Linked DNA regions of Homo sapiens: all the other regions are linked to region 3. The links come from fine-mapping of genetic effects on gene expression. A gene starts in region 3. Each other region holds a variant in brackets. All regions are shown on one strand. Distances are between the middles of the regions. Region 1 overlaps FRMD5 (FERM domain containing 5). Region 2 holds the start of LOC124903605 (small nucleolar RNA U13). Region 3 holds the start of CATSPER2 (cation channel sperm associated 2).

What was found. PIP is the estimated chance that this variant, and not a neighbour inherited with it, causes the effect.
Region 1: its variant is fine-mapped to the expression of CATSPER2 in esophagus muscle (GTEx, PIP above 0.99). The same link has a PIP of 0.9 or more in ovary and thyroid.
Region 2: its variant is fine-mapped to the expression of CATSPER2 in uterus (GTEx, PIP above 0.99).

What each region holds. Positions count from the first base shown.
Region 1 is chr15:43,899,222-43,907,601 of GRCh38, reverse strand. FRMD5 (FERM domain containing 5) reads left to right here. Exons shown (of 14, transcript NM_032892.5): 6 at 1,651-1,774; 7 at 5,340-5,427. Among named protein-coding and RNA genes, the nearest start is that of WDR76, 76 kb to the right of the region's middle. The variant G/C (reference allele first, on the strand shown) is at 3,520.
Region 2 is chr15:42,703,256-42,711,635 of GRCh38, reverse strand. The region is part of intron 26 of STARD9 (StAR related lipid transfer domain containing 9); the gene reads right to left. It overlaps LOC124903605 (small nucleolar RNA U13), which reads left to right and starts at 2,844; the gene lies at 2,844-2,944. The variant A/G (reference allele first, on the strand shown) is at 3,840.
Region 3 is chr15:43,645,458-43,653,766 of GRCh38, reverse strand. It overlaps CATSPER2 (cation channel sperm associated 2), which reads left to right and starts at 4,923. Exons shown (of 13, transcript NM_172095.4): 1 at 4,923-5,138; 2 at 5,704-5,850; 3 at 6,300-6,473; 4 at 6,649-6,717. The coding sequence starts at 5,706. It also overlaps the pseudogene PPIP5K1P1-CATSPER2 and the pseudogene PDIA3P2.

The DNA of each region.
Region 1 (8,380 bases), 250 kb before region 3:
AGTGAGCTGAGATCGCGCTACTGCACTCCAGCCTGGTGACAGAGCCAGACTCTGTCTCAAAAAAAAAAAAAAAAGCTAGGCCTGGGGTGTGCACCTGTAGTCTCAGCTATAGGCTGAGGTGGGCGGATCACTTCAGTCCAGGAGGTCGAGGCTACAGTGAGCTATGATCATGCCACTGCACTCCAGCGTGCATGACAGTGAGACCCTGTCTCAAAAGAAAAAAGACTGCAAGGCTCAAGGTCACCCCAGACTTCAGACTTGGGTCTCTTGCTAACAGTAGAAGTTCCCAAGTAATTTGGAAGATACAGTGAGTAGGTTTGTAGTGAAAAAGTACAAGTCCCAAGTACAATATTCAGCCATGGGAGGAGGGCACCTTTTCCTCTTAATATTTCTCCTCCCTCAAGACTTCACATCTGAAGTGGTTGTGGCTCTCACCTGGGAAGGAAAAAGGGCACCCACAGAGTAGCTGGCCCCTCCTCTTTCTTTTGTCCTACCCACCATCCTCCCTGTGGAGAGCTTCACGTGGAAAAAGCTGGATTCTGACCTGGGTGTGGAAAGTACCGTGGGTCTTCTGCCCTCCTAAAGTTTACTGCCCTGAGATCTTACCAGGTTTAGAGATAAACTCTCTCTGAATAGCTGGAGGAGAAAGGCTCACACCTGGCAGGGACTTGAGAAATGAGCCTTAGAACTTGATGCTTCTCGGCCGGGTGCGGTGGCTCACGCCTGTAATCCCAGCACTTTGGGAGGCCAAGGCGGGCGGATCACGAGGTCAGGAGATCGAGACCATCCTGGCTAACACGGTGAAACCCCGTCTCTACTAAAAATACAAAAAATCAGCCGGGCGAGGTGGCAGGCGCCTGTAGTCCCAGCTACGCGGGAGGCTGAGGCAGGAGAATGGCGTGAACCCAGGAGTCGGAGCTTGCAGTGAGCCAAGATCGCACCACTGCACTCCAGCCTGGGCTACAGAGTGAGACTCCGTCTAAAAACAAACAAACAAAAAAAAAGAACTTGATGCTTCTGAACTCAACGATACTTTCTAGTTACAGCCAGGCTTCCCACTCTGTAGGCCTCTCGAAGGAACCTGGCACCTGGTCAGCCCTTAATGAATATTTATTCAAATTTATTAATTTGATTTGATTTGAACTGAGGGTTGAGTTCTGAATTTGGATCGCAGCTCATTCATCAATTTACTGTGTCCCTGCTAACATCCTCAAACTAGGATTTAGACTTATGATCTGGCTGAGGCCCAAGAGGATCTCCCTTTCTGATCAAGCTCACCACTTCCTGTGCTGCCACAAAGACCATTGCTCCCAGACCATCTTCTCATGGCGGAATGGATGAGGACCATAGTGCAGGCCTCTGCTCTTTCATTGTAAATTTACTTGTGGTGACCTCAGAACACAAGGTCAGCTCTCTGTCTCTCTGCATAGACTTGAATGCCAACCCAGTGTGTGCACCTGGAAAAACAAAGGTGGACATGCTCCTGAAGGGCCTGCCCTCTGCCCAGCCCACAGCCGTGCTCAGAATCCACTGTTTCTTATAAATCTGATGTGTATTTTGGCTTTTGCTCTGTGTGCTAATCTCTTGTTGCTTTGTCAATGATGATTTACCTGTCTCCACAATTGTTTTCTTCCACCTTCCTTTTGAAAGCGGAGATTGGGGATTATGACTCAGGGAAACACCCTGAAGGCTACAGCTCCAAGTTCCAGTTTTTCCCTAAACATTCAGAGAAGCTGGAAAGGAAAATTGCTGAGATTCACAAGACGGAACTGAGGTACGTGGCACTTAATCAGGCCCAGAACATTGTGGCTTCTCCACAGCCTGAGCACGCAGGCTCCACGCCGTGTCCTCTGTTCTCGCAGACTGTTTACTGACACAGAGTGATGCTCCCCAGCCTTCCTGACCGCGGATGTACCATTGTCAGTGATACACTGACAGCACAAGTCACAGCCACAAGCCCTGTAGGCTCCCTCTCCAAGAAAAGCGATTTAGCCTGAAGCTTAAAGACAAGGGAGAAGTTGTGTTATAGGGGAAACAGAGAGGGATTGGCCTTTGAAAGGCATCTGCCTCACTATGATATTTAATGAAGATACAGAGGAAAGCATGAACTGGGGAAAAGGAAAAGATAAAGGAAATTGCATAAGATAAAAAAGATGAAAGAAAAAGGCCAGGCGCGGTGGCTTACGGCTGTAATCCCAGCACTTTGGGAGGTCGAGGCAGGTGGATCACGTGAGGCCAGGAGTTCAAGACCAGCCTGGCCAACATGGTGAAAACCCATCTCTACTAAAAATACAAAAATTAGCCAGGCATGATGGCAGGTGCCTGTAATCCCAACTACTCCGGAGGCTGAGGCGGGAGAATCGCTTGAACCCAGGAGGCAGAGGTTGCAGTGAGCTGAGGTTGCGCCATTGCACTCTAGCCTGGGTGACAGAGCGAGACTCCATCTCAAAAAAAAAAAAAAAAAAAGGAGAGGTTGAGTGAGGATGTGAAAAAGGGCAGGCTTCTGCTCTTAGTCTGTGACAGTGTGACAGGTGGCTTCTCAGTGGAGGATGGAGTGCGCAGGGCTGATTCATAAATGCTGAGGGTGCCTTGGGAGCACTCTGGTTCAGAAGTATGTCCTCAGCCCCGCCTGACTCAGGCCCCCCCCATACCCTACCTGGAGTCCCCGACTTTGCACAGAGAGAAGTGGAGGAGACGTGGCTTCAAGTTTGGAGCCTCATCTTTCTCAGCTTCTCTTACTTTGCCCAGAATATGCTGAATACCATAAAACAGCATTAATGCAGCTTTTCACCCACATGAAGTAGGATTTTCTACAAAGCCTGATTTTAAAAAGCAACAATAGGGTGTTTGGGCTCCATTTGGTTACGGCACAGATTCCCCAAACTGACAAACTATGAGGAAAAAGGATATAGAATGCAGTGTTGGCCAAGCGCAGTGGCTCACACCTGTAATCCCAGCACTTTGGGAGGCGGAGGAGGGCAGATCACCTGAGGTCAGAAGTTCGAGACCAGCCTGGGCAACATGGCGAAAACCCTGTCTCTACTAAAAATGAAAGTAAATAAATAAAAAAGCCAGATGTGGTGGCACACGCTTGTATCCCAGCTACTCAGGAGTCTGAGGCATGAGAATTACTTGAACCTGGGAGGTGGAGGTTGCAGTGAGCTGGAATTGCACCACTCCATGCCAGCCTGGGCCACAGAGCGAGACCCTGTCTCAAAAAATTAAAAATAAAAAAAAGTTATGTTGTCATTATAATACATTACAGCTTTAAAAAAATATTTTAAAAGGTTTGTGTATCTACTGTTCCGAGGAAAGACTATGCCTGGCAACAGGGAGCAGAGCTGGATATTTCTAATGCTAATACTAAGCTTCAACTTGTTCCTTCCCCGACCACAGGCCCCCCAGAAACCCTTCACTCAATGATTTTACCAACAAATATAACCCAAAGCCTCCTTAGCCTTTGTAAACAGACCCCTCTGCCCATGCCTTGTGGCAGGAGGGGTTCCTGACCCTCCCAGC[G/C]GAATGGCGACACCGAACAAATGGAATCTTAGATGCTTCCCGCCCCTCTCCCTCGGTGTGCCTTCCCAGGTGCAGGACCCCATGGCTCCTCAAGTCACTCTGTTAGGGAATAGCGACCCCTTGTGGTAAAAATCAGAATAAACACGGGCCTGTGGTGTTGGGGGCAGGGGCCTCATGGTTCCTTCAAAGAGATCAGGGATGTGCTGGAACTGCCTGGAGGGCTTTAGGAGACATCAGAATAGTAGGGACAGCCCTCCAGAAACCTAGTTCAAAGCAGGGGATCCCCCAGGAAATGATGCCCGCTTTGAGGACCCTGGAGGTTTGGGCCAACTCCAAGGGTAAATGGAGCCCACAGGGCCCACTCCCCCTGCAGACAGAGGACACTCCCTGGAAAGGGAAGCTGTGCTCTAGCCAGCCCTTTGCTTGCCACACAGATATTTTCCTAACTTACCTTCCCTGTGCCTCAGGTACACTAGTGGATGCAGAAGTCTTTATTCACAGCAATACCCCCTTCCACAGGTACTTTTTCCATAGGTCCTGCCTCGTCTTCATAATGTAAAAATACATCCATGCTTCCTTTATGCAACTGTGATATGGGCTTTTGAGAGCACAGACTGTATACTGTGTTTCTTCATATATTTTCCAGCAAGTAGCACAGAGGCTGGCACATAAAGGTGCTGCCTGACTAATGCCTCTCCAGAGGGACACTAGGGGGAATCTGGCCTGGGGTCAGCTTATCTTCCTGCCTGGCCATATCACCTGAGGCAAATGATAAGCTTAGAAACGAGCAACGTGCAGTCCTGTCCACCAGCCATCAGAGATGTTGACTTCACAAGCTGCCCACCCCTCCTCACTGAAGCCAAACCTGTATCTGTAGAAGTATATCTGCTTTGCAGGGCTCTGGACCCAGGCAAGAGCCTGATGGTTATTCTGCCACTGGGTCTGCAATGAGCCCATCAACACACCTGCTAAAGAGGCAGTGGGAAGGGGTGATGCCAAAGGCCCCTTCAGATGGCCTGGAGCCGGAGCTGATCTCTGCCTTTTTCAGCATCTTTCATTTTCCTGGTCATCACCCTATGGACAGACAGCTGTTGTGGAGCATGGGAGCTCAGCACTGTCTCCTGCCTCTCCTCACCCTAATTTCCTGTGTTTCCTTTTGGCAAAGGAAGAGGGCTGGGTGGCACCAGCAAGCTATATGAGCCCCTTCTTTATATTTCAGTCTAGAACAGATCACATATGAGAAGCCTATGACCTGCTTCCAGCCTACAGATGTATTTTGTTTTACCCCATAGTATTTTAAATTGTGAAATACCACATAAAAATCAGTATCTCTGACTTTTCTTTTAAAATCACAATATCTAGCTAAGCCTTGCATTCTTTTTTTTTTTTTTTTGAGACAGGGTCTCATTCTGTCACTCAGGGTGGAGTGTAGGGCTGTGACCATAGCTCACTGAAACCTCGCACTCCTGGGCTCAAGCAATCCTCCCACCTCCCACCTCAGCCTCCCAAGTAGTGGGCCCTGCATTCTCAGTGATGGGAATCTCAGAGTTAAGATGGTGCTGCCACAGTCCCCACCACTCCCCATTGTTTACACTCAGCCCAAGTAATTCATTATGTAGCCTGCCTCACTCTGAAAACGTTTGAAGACAGTCAGAGACTCTAGCAGGAGTCTCGAAGTTGGTCCTAGAACCAAGCAGGGAGCACACCCTAGACAAACTGAGATGTGTGGCTCATCCTAAGCACATCTTCATAGAGAGTTTACCTCAGGGGAACCTGTGGGAACAAGACACCTTGAAATCATCTCATCTTCTTTATTCCAGTGGTCAAACACCAGCAACATCAGAGCTGAACTTCTTAAGAAAAGCACAGACATTGGAAACATATGGAGTGGATCCTCACCCATGTAAGGTAAGACCCCCTGGTTGGAGACTGCATGACCTTTCCTCCTCTAGAAGGCATCAGGAGCAAGAGCCCCCATGCCTGCGCTCAGAGGCCCCCTTCAACGTTTACATGGCTGGCACTTTCAGTGAGATATCAGAGAAAATGCCTGCTTTGAAAACTCCTCTGGATCACATGCTACATAATTTTGTGGTGCCACATCAATGTCAGAGGAACCGAGGCAAAGTCAATCTAAATAACAAATCCAAAGCTAGGGCCCCGCAATGGGTAATTTGGTAGAAATGAAGAGAGGAGGGATATGGAAGGCCCCCCACAGAGAACGATCAGAGGCGGCTCAGTGCCTGCCCACCCTTTCCTGACCTGTAATCTAGTTTCTTTCCGAGAGTGGGTTTTATTGACTGCAGTGGCATAAGTCACTGCACGGAACTGCAGTGGAGTCACATTTAATGCCATTATGCGCCTGTGAGGGATAGACGAGAACCAGCCGGGGAGGCTGCCCAGAGAAAACCTCTGTAATTACTCATGCACATCTGGCATTTTGGAGATGAGCGGGGGCAGCCAGTCACTGCCGAGGCCTGTGCAGACCCATGGCCCCTTCCAGTCTCTCTCTGTGGCTGTGGCCCTTCACGTTACCTCCTGTCCCTGTTGCTTTGACACTCCTGGTCTCTACCTCAGTTTCTCCACATTTCTGCCTCTCTCTTTCCATTACTGGAGAGGGTCCAGTATCACCAGTAAAACCAACTGGCAAGCTGATCTGAAGGAAGCAGTATCAGCCAGGAACAGGAAGACATCAACCTTTTCTTCCTAACTGGAGAGGGGATACTAAGCTTCAAGCAAAAATTAAAAGAATAGTATATTAGTTCCTAGGGTTTCTGTAACAAGTATCACAGACTGGGTGGCTTAAAGAACAGAAGTCTATTGTCTCACAGTTCTGGAGGCTGGAGATCTGAGATAAGGTGTCAGCAGGGTTGGTTCTTCCTGTGGGCTTTGAGAGAAGGATCCTTTCCAGGCCCCTCTCCTTGGCCTGTGGATGGCTGTCATCTGCCTGTGTCTTCACGCTTTCTTCCCTCTGTACATGTCTCTGTCCAGATTTCTCCAAAGACACCAGTCATATTGGATTAGGGCCCATCCTAATGACCTCAGTTTAACTTAATTACCTCTGTAAAGATCCTGTCTTCAAAGAAGGTCACATTCTGAGGTACTGAGGGTTACAATGTCAACATATGAATTTTTGAAGACACAGTGTATAGCGCATAACAAATAGGAATGCCGGGCGCAGTGGCTCACACCTGTTATCCCAGCACTTTGGGAGGCCAAGGTGGGCGGATCACAAGGTCAGGAGTTCAAGACCATCCTGGACAACATGATGAAACCCTGTCTCTACTAAAAATATAAAAAGCTAGCCAGACATGGTGACACATGACTGTAATCCCAGCTACTCAAGAGGCTGAGGCAGGAGAATCGCATGAACTCGGGAAGTGGAGGTTGCAGTGAGCTGAGATCATGCCATTGCACTCCAGCCTGGGTGACAGAGCGAGACTCTGTCTCAAAAAAAAAAAAAAAACCAGGAATGAATGAGCACAGTGACATAGGGACAAAGCAGTGTCCTTTGGTCCCTTGGTGAGAAGATGGTGATTTATTCTTGCCTAGGAGTTATGAACCTTGAGAACATCCTGATATTCAGAAACCCTGGTCATCTTCCCTACCCCACAGTTCCCTATCCACTAGCACAGCCTGCTGCAAAGTAACCCCTGTGTTCTTGGGGCCACACTGTCAGAAAACACATTCATGCCTGTTATACCAGAGAATTGACATTTGGATATTTACACATTAGCAAAACTTCCAAACAATGCCCTCTGTGTAACAGATGCAGTTTAAACCCCTCCATAAATTGCTCCAATACTGTTAGCAGGGCACCCACACAGGAGTGAAGAGAGCTTTGGATAAGCTGGCCCTGGGCTCCGGTTCCCATCCCCTGTTTACTGGGGCCTTTGGGAGCTTCTCTGAGCCTCACTTGAAAGTACACAGTCTGTGTTCAATAACTGCTCCCTGAACTGCTGAGTCACTCTAGGACCTTAAAGACGGCTGCCTGAAGATATGTTCATCAGAAAGGGCCAGGTTACCTCTGCGTTTGACCCCAAACCTGCCCAGTCCCCTTGAGGCCACACATAGCACCCACCTCTTCAGAGACGGGTCCCTGAGCAGAGTTGAAAAGACACAGAGATGGGCAGACAGTGAGCCCGAGCACTACACTGACTAGAGCGGGGAAAGGGATTCTCCACCGTTGCCCACGGGATTCTGGAAGCTGTAGTGGCAGCCAGCCTGGTTTCCAACCCAAATACACATGCACCCCAGGACTGTGAGGCTCCTGTCTCAGCCTCGTCTTGGGTGAGTTTGTCCATCATTGGACGCAGAGAGGCTGAAGAGGCTGCAGGGAGGAACCAGCATTCATACCAGGCACTGTTGCCACCCAGTCACTTATGTCATGCCATCTCAATCCCATAGCATCAACTCCTGGAAGGAAAGAGGGAGGGAGGGAAGAAGAGATGTTTGTGGTATGCCTCCCATGGCGGCCTCAGTGGAGTCTTTTCACATTATGTTCTCATTTAATCCTCACACCAGCCCTGGGAGGTAGATGTTATTCTCCCTGTTTTATAGATAAGAAGACTGGCATTCCAGGAGGCCAAAATTCACAAGCCCTCAGCGGTAGAGCAAGAATTTGAACTCAAGTCACTACCCGTTGTTATGTACCCTATGGAAGAACAGAAACCCCCCAGGAGACTTCTTTTGGGGGAGTGCTCAGGTCCCTTGTTCCTGAGCCCTGTGCCTCTTCCTCACCCAGGGCCATGTCAGGGCCCTATTGCAGACCCCACACATAGCCCCTCAGCTCCTCTCATTAGGCTCTGGCCATGATTCCTCAGCTCTCCCAGCAAAGAGAACAGTTTAGGGGCCTTTACTCTTG
Region 2 (8,380 bases), 940 kb after region 3:
CATGAAGGACCCCTTGTTGTGGGTTAAATCACTGTCTCCACTGAAAATATGTTGAAGTATTTTCCCAGTATCTGTGAATTTGACCTAATTTGAAAATAAGGTCCCTGCAGATGTAACCAAGTTAATATAAGATAGTACTGGATTAGAGTGGTCCCTAAATCCAATGACTAATGTCCTTATAAGAAGGCTATGTGGAGCTGGGTGCAGTGGCTCACGCCTGTAATCCCAGCACTTTGGGAGGCTGAAGCGAGTGGATCACCTGAGGTCAGGAGTTGGAGACCAGCCTGGCCAACATGGTGAAACCCCGTCTCTACTAAAAATACAAAAAATTAGCGGGGCGTGGTGGCGGATGCCTGTAATCCCAGCTACCTGGGAGGCTGAGGCAGGAGAATTGCTTGAACCCAGGAGGCAGAGGTTGCAGTGAGCCGAGATCGTGCCACTGCACTCCAGCCTGGGTAACAGAGCAAGACTCTGTCTCCAAAAAAAAAAAAAAAAAGTTATGTGGTAGCTTACGATGGTAATTTCAGCACTTTGAGAGGCTGAGGCGGGAGGATCACTTGAGGTCAGGTGTTGCAGGTAAGAATGAGCTGTGATTGCACCACAGCAGTCCAGTCCAGGTGACAGAGACCCTGTCTCTTAAAAAAAAGTTAAATTAAAAAAAAAAAAGAAGGCTATGTGAAAACACGGGGACAAACAGACAGGGAGACAGACACACACACACAGAGAGAGAGAGAGAGAGAGAGAGCGCACAAGTGAGAGCAAGAATGTCATGTGAAGACAGAGATAGAAATGGGAGTGAATGCCAAGGATTGCTGGTAACCCATCAGAAGCCTGGAAAGAGGCTTGGAGCAGATCCTTCTCCCAGGAGCTTTCTGAGGGAGTATGGTGCTGCTAACACCAACATTTTGGACTTCTAGCCTACAGAACTATGAGAGCATAAATGTCTGTGGTTTGAAGCCACTCTGTGAGTGGTAATTTGTTACAGCAATTCTAAGAAACTAACACAATCCTGAAAACATTCCGCTAGGAGAAAGAAGCCATCAAAAAGGATCATATATTGTGTAATTCCATTTATATGAAATGTCCAGAATAGGCAAATCCATGGGGACAGAAAGTAGATTCGTGGTTGCCAAGGGCTGGGGAATGGTGAATTTAGGGAATAACTAGGGGGGTAATGAAAATGTCCTAAAATTGGTGATGGATACACAACTCTATGAATATACTAAAGCCAATGGATTATAACAATAAAAAAATCAATTAAAGAAGTGCTCAAGGGCCAGGCACGGTGGCTCACGTCCGTATTCCAACACTTTGGGAGGCTCAGGCGGGCAGATCCCTTGAGCCCAGGAGTTCAACACCAGCCTGGGCAACATGGTAAAACCCCATCTCTAGAAAACAAAAATACAAAAGTACCCGGGCATGGTGGTGCACACCTGTACTCCAGGTACTCAGGAGGCTGAGGTGGGAGGATCACCGGCGCCCAGGGAGGTCGAGGCTGCAGTGAGCCATGATTGTGTCACTGCACTCTAGCCTGGGCAACACGGCAAGACCCTGTCTCAAAAAAAAAAAAAAAAAAAAGACAGGGCATGTCAAAAGGACACAAGACCCAAGCTGAAAGAACTCCAAATAATTAAAGCTGGAACAAGTTGAACAATGAAATTAATAATGACAGTACTGTATTGAATTACGCCCCAAAGAATATGATTCCAAACTGAAAAAAATTAAATAGTTGAATAAATTAAGTGGCGGAAGAAGGGACTGCACTTTCTTAGAGAAAAGTTCCAATTAATAAATGTAGAATAAATGAGGGAAATACAAAATTCCCTAAAATATCACAGTAATAATTTTTACAGGTAAGATACACCAGTAGACACTAAAATCAGTGGATGAAAGTTTGAGGAAAAACAGGATTTTCCATCATCTCCAATATTTTTTTGGGGGGCTGCTGTGGGGCATGGAGTCTTGCTCTGTCACCCAGGCTGGAGTGCAGTGGCGCCATCTCAGCTCAATGCAAACCCCGCCTCCCGGGTTCAAACTATTCTCCTGTCTCAGCCTTCTGTGTAGCTGGGTCTACAGGCGTGTGCCACCATGCCTGGCTAATTTTTGTATTTTTAGTGGAGACGGGGTTTCACCATGCTGACCAGGCTGTTCCTGAACTCCTGACCTCGTGATCCGCCCGCCTCTGCCTCCCAAAGTGCTGGGATTACAGGCGTGAGCCACCTTGCCCAGCTAGTCTCCAAGATTTTTTGAGACAGGGTCTCCCTCTGTCCAAGGCCAATGATGTAATCATGGCTCACTGCAGCCTCCATTCCCCTCCAGGCTCAAGCGATCCTCCCACCTCAGCCTCCCAAGTAGCTGGGACCACAGGCATGCACCACCAACATAGCTTTTGTGTGTGTGTGTGTAGAGATGGCGTATCACTATGTTGCCTAGGCTGATCTCAAAATACTGGACTCAAGTGATCCTCCTGCCTCAGCTTTCCAAAGCACTGGGATTACAGGCGTCAGCCACCACATTCAGCCATGTTCATTAATCATAAAGGACAATATAGCAACATTCAGTGGAGAGACCCCCAACCACCACCTTAACATCAAAGTTCACATCACCAGAAACAGGACATGTCGGTATCCGGTAACCTCTGATACAATGCACCGAGAATAAGGTATTGCATGAGACATACTTATACTATAAAACTATTTGTTGTCTAAAATTTGAATTTAACTAGCATCCTGTATTTTTCTTTGCCTAATCTGTCAACCTTCAGAAGGGCAAATCACTTCTATGGTATTTTTTTTGCCAAAAACGCATAACTTCAATCCAACCATAAGAAAACCACAGACACGATCCTTTTGTAGTTCGTAAGCATGACGATCGGGTTTTCACATACATGTCTCAGAAGTGCCTCTCTCAAACCTTGTTACGTCAGCACATTACCTGTCTTACATGAAAAAAAAAAGAAAAAAAGCAAGAAACAGCAGATAAATACATTCCAAAAAATTACTAACCACGAAGCAAGAAAAGACTGAGAAACTATCACAATAGGAAAAAGAAACTGATAACAACATACACAGAAATGAATAAGTTAGAATCAAAAGGGGCTCCAGGAGAGATGAAATATCTAAACCAAAGGCTGGCAAAACTTTTTCTGTGGGGAGCTAGATACTGAATATTTAAGGCTTTGTGGGCCATTTGAGTAGCTGCAGCTACTCAACTCTCTGCCACTGTAGTGGGAACACAACCATAGAAGACATGTACATGAATGGGCATGACTGTATTCCGGTAAAACTTTATTTACAAAAACAGGAAGCAGGCCAGATCTGGCCAAAGGGCCATAGTTTGCTAACCCCTGATCTTAACAGACCATCTTCCATTGAAGAAGTTTTTCAAATAACTAATCCCCTACTGAAACACCAAGCCTTGTCAATTTAAAAGGATTATTATATCAAACTTTAAAAGATGATTCAAAAGAAATTTTTTTTTTTTGAAACAGGGTCTTGCTGTGTCACCCAGGCTGGAGTGCAGCAGCATGGTCACAGCTCACCACAGCCTCGACTTCCCAGGCTCAAGCAATCCTCCCACCACAGCCTCCTGAGTAGCTAGGACTACAGGTGTGCAGCACCACCCTGGCTTTTTTTTTTTTTTCTATGTTGCCCTGTCTGGACTCAAACTCCTGGGCTCAAGCAATCCTCCTGCCTCAGCCTCCCAAAGTGCTGAGATTACAGATGTGAGCCACCGTGTCTGGCTCTCAAATTTTTTTACTTTTCATCCCCATTTCACACTCCCATCCAAATCATTCTGATGTGCTTAGAGTGTATCTTTTTGTTTGTATGTGTTCTTGC[A/G]AAAAGTGATTGTTGTGTATGTTGTATTTATATACTGTATATGTTGTTTAATTCACAAATAGTAATATATCTCATCTTATGGGCGGATCATGAGGTCAGGAGTTCAAGACCAGCCTGGTCAACATAGTAAAAGTCCGTCTCCACTAAAAATACAAAAAAATAAGCTGGGCATGGTGGCAGGCACCTGTAGTCCCAGCTACTGGGGAGGCTGAGGCAGGAGAATTTCTTGAGCCCAGGAGTCGGAGGCTGGAGTGAGCCGAGATCGTGCCACTGCACTCCAGCCTTGGCGACACAGCAAGACTCTGTCTCAAAAAAAAAAAAAAAAAAAGTTTTTCACTCAGTATTCTGCCTAGGTGTTTAATCTGCTGATTTCGAGTCTTGCATAGTATTAATATTTCATGTGTGCAACTACCACATTTTACCTATCCACTCTTCTCAGTGATGGATTTGCGAATGTCCTCCAACTCATTGCCACTTCAAATAATGCCTTAATAAACAATTCCTTACATGTTCTCTCATAACCTATGCAAACATTGCTGAGTCATAGGAACCTGTAATGGTTCCAATATCCTCAAAGTCCTGCCAAAATCTGGCATCATCTGGCTTCCTAAATTTTGCCAACTTAATAAGTATAAAGTTTTTATTACTTTTTTAACTATTCATAAACCTTGAAAAAGAAAACTACCACCTTTCTTTCCTATTAAAGGAGTATAAAGTAATAACAAAACCTAAGGAATATATTGTGAAAGCAAAAACCACAGAAAAATTCAAATATGGATGCAAAATTCTAAAATATAACTGGACTCCAACACATTAAAAGAATAGTATATCAGAATCATAAATATATATTATAGGATTTATTCCAGGAATGCAAGAATAGTTCAATATTAGCCCCAAAATAGATAGATGGATGGATGAATGAATGAAATCATCTCCAAAGACTCTGAAATACCCATTCTGGATAAGAATATGCTATAAAGTAGGAATAGTTGGATATTTCCTTAGTATTGCAAAAATATATCTATCTCAGCTCAAAAGCTATAAAAAAGCCAGGTGTGGTGGCTCACGCCTGTAATCTCAGCATTTTGGGAGGCCGAGATGGGTGGATCACCTGAGGTCAGGGGTTCGAGACGAGCCTGGCCAGCATGGTGAAACCCAATCTCTACTAAAAATACAAAAATTAGCCAGGCATGGTGGCAGGCGCCTGTAATCCCAGCTCTTCGGGAGGCTGAGGCAGGAGAATCGCTTAAAGATTGAGGCGAAGGTTGCAGTGAGCCGAGATCATGCCACTGCACTCCAGCCTGGGCAACAGAGCAAGACACTGTCTCAAAAAAAAAAAAAAATTAAGATAGGTACATGTATTAGCAGCTACTAAATTAGTAGTGCAGGTCTAGAGAATCAACCAAAAAAATAGATGCAAAATTAATTCACAGAAATCTATAGCTTTAATACACACAAAATAATCAGAAGATATAAAGGAACGAAAAAACCTATTTACAAGAGTAACAAAAAACTTAAAATACTTAGAAATAAATCTGACAAGAAATGTGAGAGACATATGAAGAAAACTTTAAAAACATAAAAAGAAAGCTTGAACCTAGTACATTTTTGGTTAGAAAGTTCTATAGCATAAGACGTGGTTTCTCCCTAAGTCAATCCACATGATCCTATTAAAAATAGTAACAAGTTCTTGCAATTGAACTAGACAAGGTGATCCTAAATTTCATATAAAAAATAAACAACAGGACGGGTGCGGTGGCTCACGCCTGTAATCCCAGCACTTTGGGAGGCTGAGGTAGGCAGATCACTCGAGGTTAGGAGTTTGAGAAAAGCCTGGCCAACATGGTGAAACCCCATCTCTACTAAAAACACAAAAATTAGCCAGGCGTGGGGGCAGGCGCCTGTAATCCCAGCTACTCAGCAGGCTGAGACAAGAGAATCGCTTGAACCCAGGAGGTGGAGGTTGCAGTAAGCTGAGATCACGCCCCTGCACTCCAGCCCGAGTGAGAGAGTGAGACTCCATCTCAAAAAATAAAAAATAAACAAACAAACAACAGGCTGGGTGCAGTAGCTCATGCCTGTAATCCCAGCACTTTGTTCAGCTGAGGTGGGCAAATCACCTGAGGTCAAGAGTTTGAGACCAGCCTAGCCAACACTGAAAACCCCATCTCTATTAAAAATACAAGAAAAATTAGCCAGGCATGGAGGGTGATGCATGCCTGTAGTCCCAGGTACTCGGAGTGCTGAGCCAGGAAGAATCGCTTGAACCTGGGAGGCGGAGGTTGCAGTGAGTCAAGATGGCGCCACAGCACTCCAGTCTGAGTGACAGAGCAAGACTCCATCTCAAAAAAATAAACAAACAACAGATCAGTAACACAGAGGCACAACAAGATGGCAGAATAGGACCCGTCAGTGATAGTTCCCCACAGAAACATCAATTTGAACAACAATCCACAAAAGAAAATATCTTCGCTAGAGCTAGGAAAACCAGTTGATAGATAAAAGTACTAGATTTTACAAGGAGAAGAAGATGCATTAAAGATAATAGGAAGGACAGTCTCATATTATCTGTACCAACCCTTCCCCAACCCTAGGTAGTGATGAGAGACACCGCCCACATGGCAGAAGGAGAGGTTAGTGGACATGGGACTTTGCCTTAGAGCCCAGTACTAAGTCTGCCACAGTAATACACAGAACCAGAAAAAACCCCACAGCCTAATTCCAGGCCTGTGCCCACGGACAAAGATTGTGGACCCACACTAAGCACCAGAAAGGAATTCCCCACCCCATCAGGATGAATGGGATTCTCACATCACTGGGCCCCAAATAAATTTCAGCATGGTAGCAGCCTGGGCCTTGGGCATGACCCATTTCCACCCTGGTCCAAGAGGCCATAGGCTTCAGGTGTAGCCCTGCATAGCATCAGCTGTGGCAGCCACAGGACTGCCCACATCACCTTTCCCTCCAACTGTAGGCAACATGGTACAGAGAAAGACACCATCTACTTTAGGGAAGGAGACCGAATTATGCATGAAACTTTTCCTTGGAACCCAGTACCAAGCCCACAACAACAAAACCAGCACCTGGTTCAGGGCCCTGGCCAGCATTACCACACGAGGTGGGGAACTCTCCCTGGGTCTTACTCAGGTCCATCGGGGCCAGGGACATTGGAGTCTGTAACAGAGTCCCAGCTACATAGGCTTACAGTGCCCTCTAGCGCTAAGATGGCTACAGTGACCACAGGCTTAGGGAACTCAACAGTCAGGCTCCTTTGAATTCCTGGAAGGCTCTCTGAAAGACAGGTACAAACAAGGCCAGATTGCAAAAATTGGAATATATATCAATTTCTTCAATGCCCAGATATTGACACACATTGGAAAGCATCAAGAACATTAAGGGAACTATGACCTCACCAAACCAACTAAATAAGGTGCCAGTGATCCATCCTGAAGAGATTGAGAAGTATAATCTAAGACAGGGAATTCAAAATAGTTGTTTTGAGGTAGCCCAATAAACTTCAAGAAAACACAGAGAAATAATTCAGAAATCTATGAGAGAAACTTTACAAAGAGATTAAAATAATCTTGGCCAGGCGTGGTAGCTCATGCCTGTAATCCCAGCACTTTGGGAGGCCGAGGCAGGCAGATCACCTGAGGTCAGGAGTTCGAGACCAGCCTGACCAACATGGTAAAACCCCATCTCTACTAAAAATACAAAAAAAATTAGCCGGGCGCTGTGTCAGGTGCCTGTAATCCCAGCTACTCGGGAGGCTGAGGCAGGAGAATCGCTTGAACCCGGGAGGCGGAGGTTGCCGTGAGCCAAGATCACGCCACTGCACTCCAGCCTGGGCAACAAGAGTGAAACTCCATCTCAAAATAAATAAATAAGTAAATAATAATAATAATCTTTTAAAAATCAAACAGAAATCCTGGAGGTGAAATACACTGAACAAACAAAAATGCATTAAAATGCTGTCTTGACAGCAGAAATTATAAAGCAGAAGAATAAATCTGTGAGCTCAAAGACAGGATATTTGAAAATACAGAGGAGGAAAGAAAAAAAGAATGAAAAAGAACAAAAGAAAGCTTAAAGAATCTGTGTGATAGTGTCAAAAGAACAAATGTGGCCAGGCGCGGTGGCCCACGCCTGTAATCCTAGTATTTTGGGAGGCCGAGGTGGGTGGATCATGAGGTCAGGAGTTCAAGACCAGCGTGACCAACATGGTGAAACCCTGTCTCTACTAAAAATACAAAAAAAAAAAAAAAATCAGCCAGGCATGGTGGCTGGCGCCTATAATCTCAGCTACTTGGGAGGCTGAGGCAGGAGAATTGCTTGAACCCTGGAGGCGGAGGCTGCAGTGGGCAGGGATTGTGCCACTGCACTCCAGCCTGGGTGAACAGTGCAAGACTCCATCTAAAAAAAAAAAAAACAAACAAAACAAAAAAAACAAATGTACGAGTCACTGGCATTCAAGAGGGAGTGCAGAATGAGAACGGAGGGGAGTAGAAAGTTTATTCAAAGCAATAATAACAGGGAACTTT
Region 3 (8,309 bases):
TTTTCTGCATCTATTGAGATAATCATGTGGTTTTTGTCTTTGGTTCTGTTTATATGCTGGATTACATTTATTGATTTGCGTATATTGAACCAGCCTTGCATCCCAGGGATGAAGCCCACTTGATCATGGTGGATAAGCTTTTTGATGTGCTGCTGGATTCGGTTTGCCAGTATTTTATTGAGGATTTTTGCATCAATGTTCATCAAGGATATTGGTCTAAAATTCTCTTTTTTGGTTGTGTTTCTGCCCGGCTTTGGTATCAGGATGATGCTGGCCTCATAAAATGAGTTAGGAAGGATTCCCTCTTTTTCTATTGATTGGAATAGTTTCAGAAGGAATGGTACCAGTTCCTCCTTGTACCTCTGGTAGAATTTGGCTGTGAATCCATCTGGTCCTGGACTCTTTTTCGTTGGTAAGCTATTGATTATTGCCACAATTTCAGCTCCTGTTATTGGTCTATTCAGAGATTCAACTTCTTCCTGGTTTAGTCTTGGGAGAGTGTATGTGTCGAGGAATTTATCCATTTCTTCTAGATTTTCTGGTTTATTTGCGTAGACGTGTTTGTAGTATTCTCTGATGGTAGTTTGTATTTCTGTGGGATTGGTGGTGATATCCCTTTTATCATTTTTTATTGCATCTATTTGATTCTTCTCTCTTTTTTTCTTTATTAGTCTTGCTAGCGGTCTATCAATTTTGTTGATCCTTTCAAAAAACCAGCTCCTGGATTCGTTAATTTTTTGAAGGGTTTTTTGTGTCTCTATTTCCTTCAGTTCTGCTCTGATTTTAGTTATTTCTTGCCTTCTGCTAGCTTTTGAATGTGTTTGCTTTTGCTTTTCTAGTTCTTTTAATTGTGATGTTAGGGTGTCAATTTTGGATCTTTCCTGCTTTCTCTTGTGGGCATTTAGTGCTATAAATTTCCCTCTACACACTGCTTTGAATGTGTCCCAGAGATTCTGGTATGTTGTGTCTTTGTTCTCGTTGGTTTCAAAGAACATCTTTATTTCTGCCTTCATTTCGTTATGTACCCAGTAGTCATTCAGGAGCAGGTTGTTCAGTTTCCATGTAGTTGAGCGGTTTTGAGTGAGATTCTTAATCCTGAGTTCTAGTTTGATTGCACTGTGGTCTGAGAGATAGTTTGTTATAATTTCTGTTCTTTTACATTTGCTGAGGAGAGCTTTACTTCCAACTATGTGGCCAATTTTGGAATAGGTGTGGTGTGGTGCTGAAAAAAACGTATATTCTGTTGATTTGGGGTGGAGAGTTCTGTAGATGTCTATTAGGTCCGCTTGGTGGAGAGCTGAGTTCAATTCCTGGGTATTCTTGTTGACTTTCTGTCTCGTTGATCTGTCTAATGTTGACAGTGGGGTGTTAAAGTCTCCCATTATTAATGTGTGGGAGTCTAAGTCTCTTTGTAGGTCACTCAGGACTTGCTTTATGAATCTGGGTGCTCCTGTATTGGGTGCATATATATTTAGGATAGTTAGCTCTTCTTGTTGAATTGATCAACAAGGCCTTAATTACTTAATTGATCATTAAGTAATGGCCTTCGTCTCTTTTGATCTTTGTTGGTTTAAAGTCTGTTTTATCAGAGACTAGGATTGCAACCCCTGCCTTTTTTTGTTTTCCATTTGCTTGGTAGATCTTCCTCCATCCTTTTATTTTGAGCCTATGTGTGTCTCTGCACGTGAGATGGGTTTCCTGAATACAGCACACTGATGGGTCTTGACTCTTTATCCAATTTGCCAGTCTGTGTCTTTTAATTGGAGCATTTAGTCCATTTACATTTAAAGTTAATATTGTTATGTGTGAATTTGATCCTGTCATTATGATGTTAGCTGGTTATTTTGCTCATTAGTTGATGCAGTTTCTTCCTAGTCTCGATGGTCTTTACATTTTGGCATGATTTTGCAGCGGCTGGTACCGTTTGTTCCTGTCCATGTTTAGTGCTTCCTTCAGGAGCTCTTTTAGGGCAGGCCTGGTGGTGACAAAATCTCTCAGCATTTGCTTGTCTGTAAAGTATTTTATTTCTCCTTCACTTATGAAGCTTAATTTGGCTGGATATGAAATTCTGGGTTGAAAATTCTTTTCTTTAAGAATGTTGAATATTGGCCCCCACTCTCTTCTGGCTTGTAGAGTTTATGCCGAGAGATCTGCTGTTAGCCTGATGGGCTTCCCTTTCAGGGTAACCCACCTTTCTCTCTGGCTGCCCTTAACATTTTTTCCTTCATTTCAACTTTGGTGAATCTGACAATTATGTGTCTTGGTGTTGCTCTTCTCGAGGAGTATCTTTGTGGCATTCTCTGTATTTCCTGAATCTGAATGTTGGCCTGCCTTGCTAGATTGGGGAAGTTCTCCTGGATAATATCCTGTAGAGTGTTTTCCAACTTGGTTCCATTCTCCCCATCACTTTCAGGTACACCAGTCAGACGTAGATTTGGTCTTTTCACATAGTCCCATATTTCTTGGAGGCTTTGCTCATTTCTTTTTATTCTTTTTTCTCTAAACTTCCCTTCTCGCTTCATTTCATTCATTTCATCTTCCATCGCTGATACCCTTTCTTCCAGTTGATTGCATCGGCTCCTGAGGCTTCTGCATTCTTCACGTAGTTCTTGAGCCTTGGCTTTCAGCTCCATCAGCTCCTTTAAGCACTTCTCTGTATTGGTTATTGTAGTTATACATTCTTCTAAATTTTTTTCAAAGTTTTCAACTTCTTTGCCTTTGGTTTGAATGTCCTCCCGTAGCTCAGAGTAATTTGATCGTCTGAAGCCTTCTTCTCTCAGCTCGTCAAAGTCATTCTCCGTCCAGCTTTGTTCCGTTGCTGGTGAGGAACTGTGTTCCTTTGGAGGAGGAGAGGTGCTCTGCTTTTTAGAGTTTGCAGTTTTTCTGCTCTGTTTTTTCCCCATCTTTGTGGTTCTATCTACTTTTGGTTTTCGATGATGGTGATGTACAGATGGGTTTTTGGTGTGGACGTCCTTTCTGTTTGTTAGTTTTCCTTCTAACAGACAGGACCCTCAGCTGCAGGTCTGTTGGAGTACCTGGCCGTGTGAGGTGTCAGTCTGCCCCTGCTGGGGGTTGCCTCCCAGTTAGGCTGCTTGGGGGTCAGGGGTCAGGGACCCACTTGAGGAGGCAGTCTGGCCGTTCTCAGATCTCCAGCTGCGTGCTAGGAGAACCACTGCTCTCTTCAAAGCTGTCAGACAGGGACATTTAAGTCTGCAGAGGTTACTGCTGTCTTTTTGTTTGTCTGTGCCCTGCCCCCAGAGGTGGAGCCTACAGAGGCAGGCAGGCCTCCTTGAGCTGTGGTGGGCTCCACCCAGTTCGAGCTTCCCGGCTGCTTTGTTTACCTAAGCAAGCCTGGGCAATGGCAGGCACCCCTCCCCCAGCCTCGCTGCCGCCTTGCAGTTTGATCTCAGACTGCTGTGCTAGCAATCAGCGAGACTCCGTGGGTGTAGGACCCTCCGAGCCAGGTGCGGGATATAATCTCCTGGTGCGCTGTTTTTTAAGCCCGTCGGAAAAGCGAAGTTTTCGGGTGGGAGTGACCCGATTTTCCAGGTGCTGTCTGTCACCACTTTCTTTGACTAGGAAAGGGAACTCCCTGACCCCTTGCGCTTCCCGAGTGAGGCAATGCCTCGCCCTGCTTCGGCTCGTGCACAGTGCGCGCACCCACTGACCTGCGCCCACTGTCTGGCACTCCCTATTGAGATGAACCGGGTACCTCAGATGGAAATGCAGAAATCACCCGTCTTCTGCGTCACTCATGCTGGGAGCTGTCGACTGGAGCTGTTCCTATTCGGAGTATTGACATTTTAAAGAAATCCTAATTAAAATGGACAATATGGACAGATTATGATGGAATTATTCTTGTTCAGGTACTCTTTTCGTTTGGACAGAGGTATCTGCCGGTACTGAGATGTAAGTGATCAGCTGAAGGGAGAAACTGTACACCATGTGACGGACAAATTGCCTGCCTCAAGAAAGCACTTAGGACCATTCTGCAGCCACTCAGTGACCTTGGCTAGAAACCAATGGCTGTGCGGCGTGAGGTAAGATGAAAGGAAATACCCTAGGGATCCAGGACTTCTGCATTTGGTGAAACGTCCGCTTCCACTACAAGGCTTTGGGATGTCTAGTCTGTAGACTGGAGTAACATTAATACTGACTCATGCAGAAACAATATAGCTACATATTGAACTGGGGGAAGGGGTGGCAAAACCCTCTGCAAATAGGAAGTGCCACAAGAGCACCGAGATAAGGATGAGGCCCTGCGTGAGCGCAGCCTTCGGGTTTTCCTTGGGCCGATCAGCACCGACTCCACCGCTCTCGGCGAGGCACCTCCAGCTCCCGGGAATGAGAAATGTGCCCGCCACAGCAGGGGCCCACAGGAATGAAGGGCGCCGGCGCTGCGTAGGCCCAACAGTTCCCCGCGCCCTCGCCCCCGGCCCCGGCCCAGCCCGGCCCTTCTTCCCCCGCCTTGGCAGAGTGGCGTCATCAGGGGGCGAAAAACCCGACGAGCATGAGGCCCGCAGATCCCGTGTAGGAGATGCGACTCTCGAAGTTGTCGTCCGTGAGTTCGGAGGCAGCGGCGAGGCGGGCCGCGGCAAGAAGCAGCGCCACACCCGGGAACAGCGCTAGGCGGCGGAGGCGCATGGCGGCGAGGTGGGGTGGGGACGGCCGGAAGGGTCGCGGCTCGGCTGGGACTGCGGAGGTCGGGCGCGCGACCACAAACCGGCTGCCTGCGCTGGCGCGTCTGGCCCAGGGGACCTGCAGCCGGAGGTCCCAACCCCCAAACCCGGCTCGGGCCGCTGTGTGGCAGCCGCTGATTGGCTGCGCGTCGCCTTCGTCCGGCGGGCGGGACCAGCTGGTTACCGCTGAGTGGCCGGAGAGCGGGGCGGGGCGGGGCCTAGGCGGCGAGTGGCTGGGCGAGCGTTGCTCCGCATGGTCCTGGGCTGTGGGTAGGGGCTAGGGCCGGGTCCCGGGGTGAGCCGAAACCTGGGGGTCGAGCGGGGCGGGGAATGGGGCGCAGTGAGGCTGGGAGCCGGCCCTGAGCTCGTCTTGCATAGGGGTAGCCAGGCTCGGGGCACCTGAGCTGGAGGCGGAAGCGTGAAATAAGGACTGAGTGGGCAAAGAGAACCTGGGCTGAGGTGAGGCCCAGAAGCGAGAATGGAGGAGAGAAGGAGCTAGCCCCCGAAGGAGTGTTGGAGTGGACACACTTGGGACGGGACCCATTTTCAAAATGTCAGGCTTTGGCATTTTGTCCAATTTCTCTGCACTTGGTTTCTCTTGCGTGAGCAGGCCAAGACCTCCCCCAACTCCACCTCATTGCCCGATTGTCTCAGGCACAGGTGGGACCCAGATTCTTTGTCCAGCCCCGGGCCCCTGCCCTTGTGGCTGCTCCTTTTTCTTGCGGTGTTTTTGTTTGTTTTGTTTTGTTTTTAATGAGTTTTAATTAGAAATGCCATCACAAAGTGAAGATGCCTGGCCGCTTGGTCGACTGTGCAATGTCTTTACCACTTAGCCCCTTTTGTTTCAAAACACCCTGAGTCCTAGTAGAATGTTTGTTCTTCCCAACTGCTCCTAGTTCGTAGATGTGGGTACATTAAGGAATCTTAAGGGTAAAGAGGGTGGGGAGGAGGGGACAGAAAACCTGTAATCCTTGGTGCAGCTCCAAGAATGAAATGACACTTGATGCTTACATTTTCTTAGCAGACATGGCCGCTTACCAACAAGAAGAGCAGATGCAGCTTCCCCGAGCTGATGCCATTCGTTCACGTCTCATCGATACTTTCTCTCTCATTGAGCATTTGCAAGGCTTGAGCCAAGCTGTGCCGCGGCACACTATCAGGGAGTTACTTGGTCAGCAGCCTATTTCTTCACTAATTTAAATTTAAGACTCCTATCCACATCCTCTACATTTAAGAGTGGAAAATTCTGGGGAGGTTTAGTTGCTGGTTTACCAAACTTGATAAATCAAGGGCTTGTAAATAAAACTGAAGAGATAGAATCCACGTCTTTCACTTTTAGGCCTAGGATAGCCACTAGCCATGGATGATTGGGAAGAGTTTCTGTCAAAGACTCTTAAAACTTTGAGAGTGAGCCTGCTGCTTTTGTGGGCATGGACAGTGTTGGTCATAAGCAATACATTTGCTCTCACTCCAAACAGAATTCTTAGTTGCTGTGAGAAGAGAAGGACTAGCAGTAAGGCATTAGGGGAACCCATTACCTGACCAGTATCCCTGCCCCCAACCCTACCTGGTCTATTTTGTTTGTATTTATCCACTATCCCTTTTTAATTTTTGTTGTAGATCCTTCCCGCCAGAAGAAACTTGTATTGGGAGATCAACACCAGCTAGTGCGTTTCTCTATAAAGCCTCAGCGTATAGAACAGATTTCACATGCCCAGAGGCTGTTGAGCAGGCTTCATGTGCGCTGCAGTCAGAGGCCACCTCTTTCTTTGTGGGCCGGATGGGTCCTTGAGTGTATCCTTTCATGTCACTCATTTTTATCCTGGCTGTTGATCATCTGCCTAATGACTTATTTTTTGCTCCCCATACTCCACTGTCTCATTTTCACTGCTTATGTTATTGCTCTTATTATTTCAGCTGCATAAATCAGAAAGAACTCCACTCTGTACATTTCCTTAAGAGACAACAGGTCCTCTCTTCAAAAACTTCATCATCTTCCTGGTCTTTTTGAATACGATCATATTGATGGTTGAAATAGGTGAGAACTGACCTTGTATGAAAGAGGAAGTGAGGCCGGGCACGCCGGCTCACACGTGTAATCCTAGCACTTTGGGAGGCCGGGGCGTGTGGATTGCCGGAGCTCAGGAGTTGGAGACCAGCCTGGGCAACATGGTGAAACCCTGTCTCTACTAAAAAATACAAAAAATTAGCCGGGCTTGGTAGCACGCGCTTGTAGTCCCAGCTACTTGGGAGGCTGAGGCAGGAGAATCGCTTAAACCCAGGAGGCGTAGGTTTCAGTGAGCCGAGATTGTGCCACTGCATTTCAGCCTGGGCGACAGAGTACAACTCTGTCTCAAAAAAAAAAAAAAGAAAAAGAAAAAGAGGAAGTGGGTAGGAGTAATTTTTTTTTCTAAATTGATCATTTTACATTTTTGAATGTCATTTGAAATGTGACATTTATATTAAGGACAATTATATTAAGCCTCCTGGAGTAGAATTTATGCAACTGCTAAAATCTAGAAATATTCGCTGGGCACGGTAGCTCACACCTGTAATCTCAGCACTTTGGGAGGCCGAGGTGGTTGAATCACTTGAGGTCAGGAATTCAAGACCAGCCTAGCCAACATGTTGAAACCCCATCTGTACTAAAAATAGAAAAAATTAGCTGGGCGTGGTGGTGGGCACCTGTAATCCCAGCTACTCAGTAGGCTGAGGCAGGAGGACGCTTGATCGTGGGAAGCCGAGGTTGCAGTGAGCTGAAATCACGCCACTGCACCCCATCTCAAAAAAAAAAGAAATATTAATATTTGGAGGCTCTCAAGAGTATACTAGATACAGAGCATCTAGACACATAAAACTAGGTGTAATATGTAGCAATATAACAAATCCACAAGGAACTGAACTTGGGAAGACCAGTTTTATTTCTGTTGTCAGTTTAGCCTGACATTTGTTTGAATTAACCTTTTCTGTTAAAGATATTGGTGCCTATCAGTGAACGATCTAACATTTACATTTTTACAAGTATATTTAGAAAGATTAAGTATAAATAAGAAAGCTCACAAAGTATGGAAAGGTAGGTACAACTAAGATATTAGCTGAGCCAAAAAAATTACTTAAAAAGGAAATGATTCTGAAACCAATAATAAATTATATGAAATACATTCAAAACATAAGTATGTCTGCAAAATCAGTGAGCTCATTTGTTGATAATCTCAAACTGCTCAGAAATGATGAAAGGACAGTAGAACTTGTTTCATTCTCACTGTTGTGGGGAAGTCTCCCACTTTATGTTTTAGAGACAGAGTCTCACTTTGTTGCTTAGGCTGGAGTGCAGTGGTGTGATCATGGCTTGTTGCAGCCTCGACCTCCAGGGCTCAGTTGATCCTCCCACCTCGGCCTCCTGAGTAGCTTGGACTACAGGTGCATGCCCACTACACCAGGCTAATTATGTTGATTTTATTTTTGTAGAGACAGGGTCTCACTATGTTGCCCAGGCTGGTCTTGAACTCCTGGGCTCAAAAGATCCTCATGCCTTAGCCTCCCAAAGTGCTGGGATTACAGGCGTGAGTTACCACGTCCAGCCTAGGAGGAATTTTTAAGAGAAGGGAGTAGTTATGAAGCTCTTGGCTG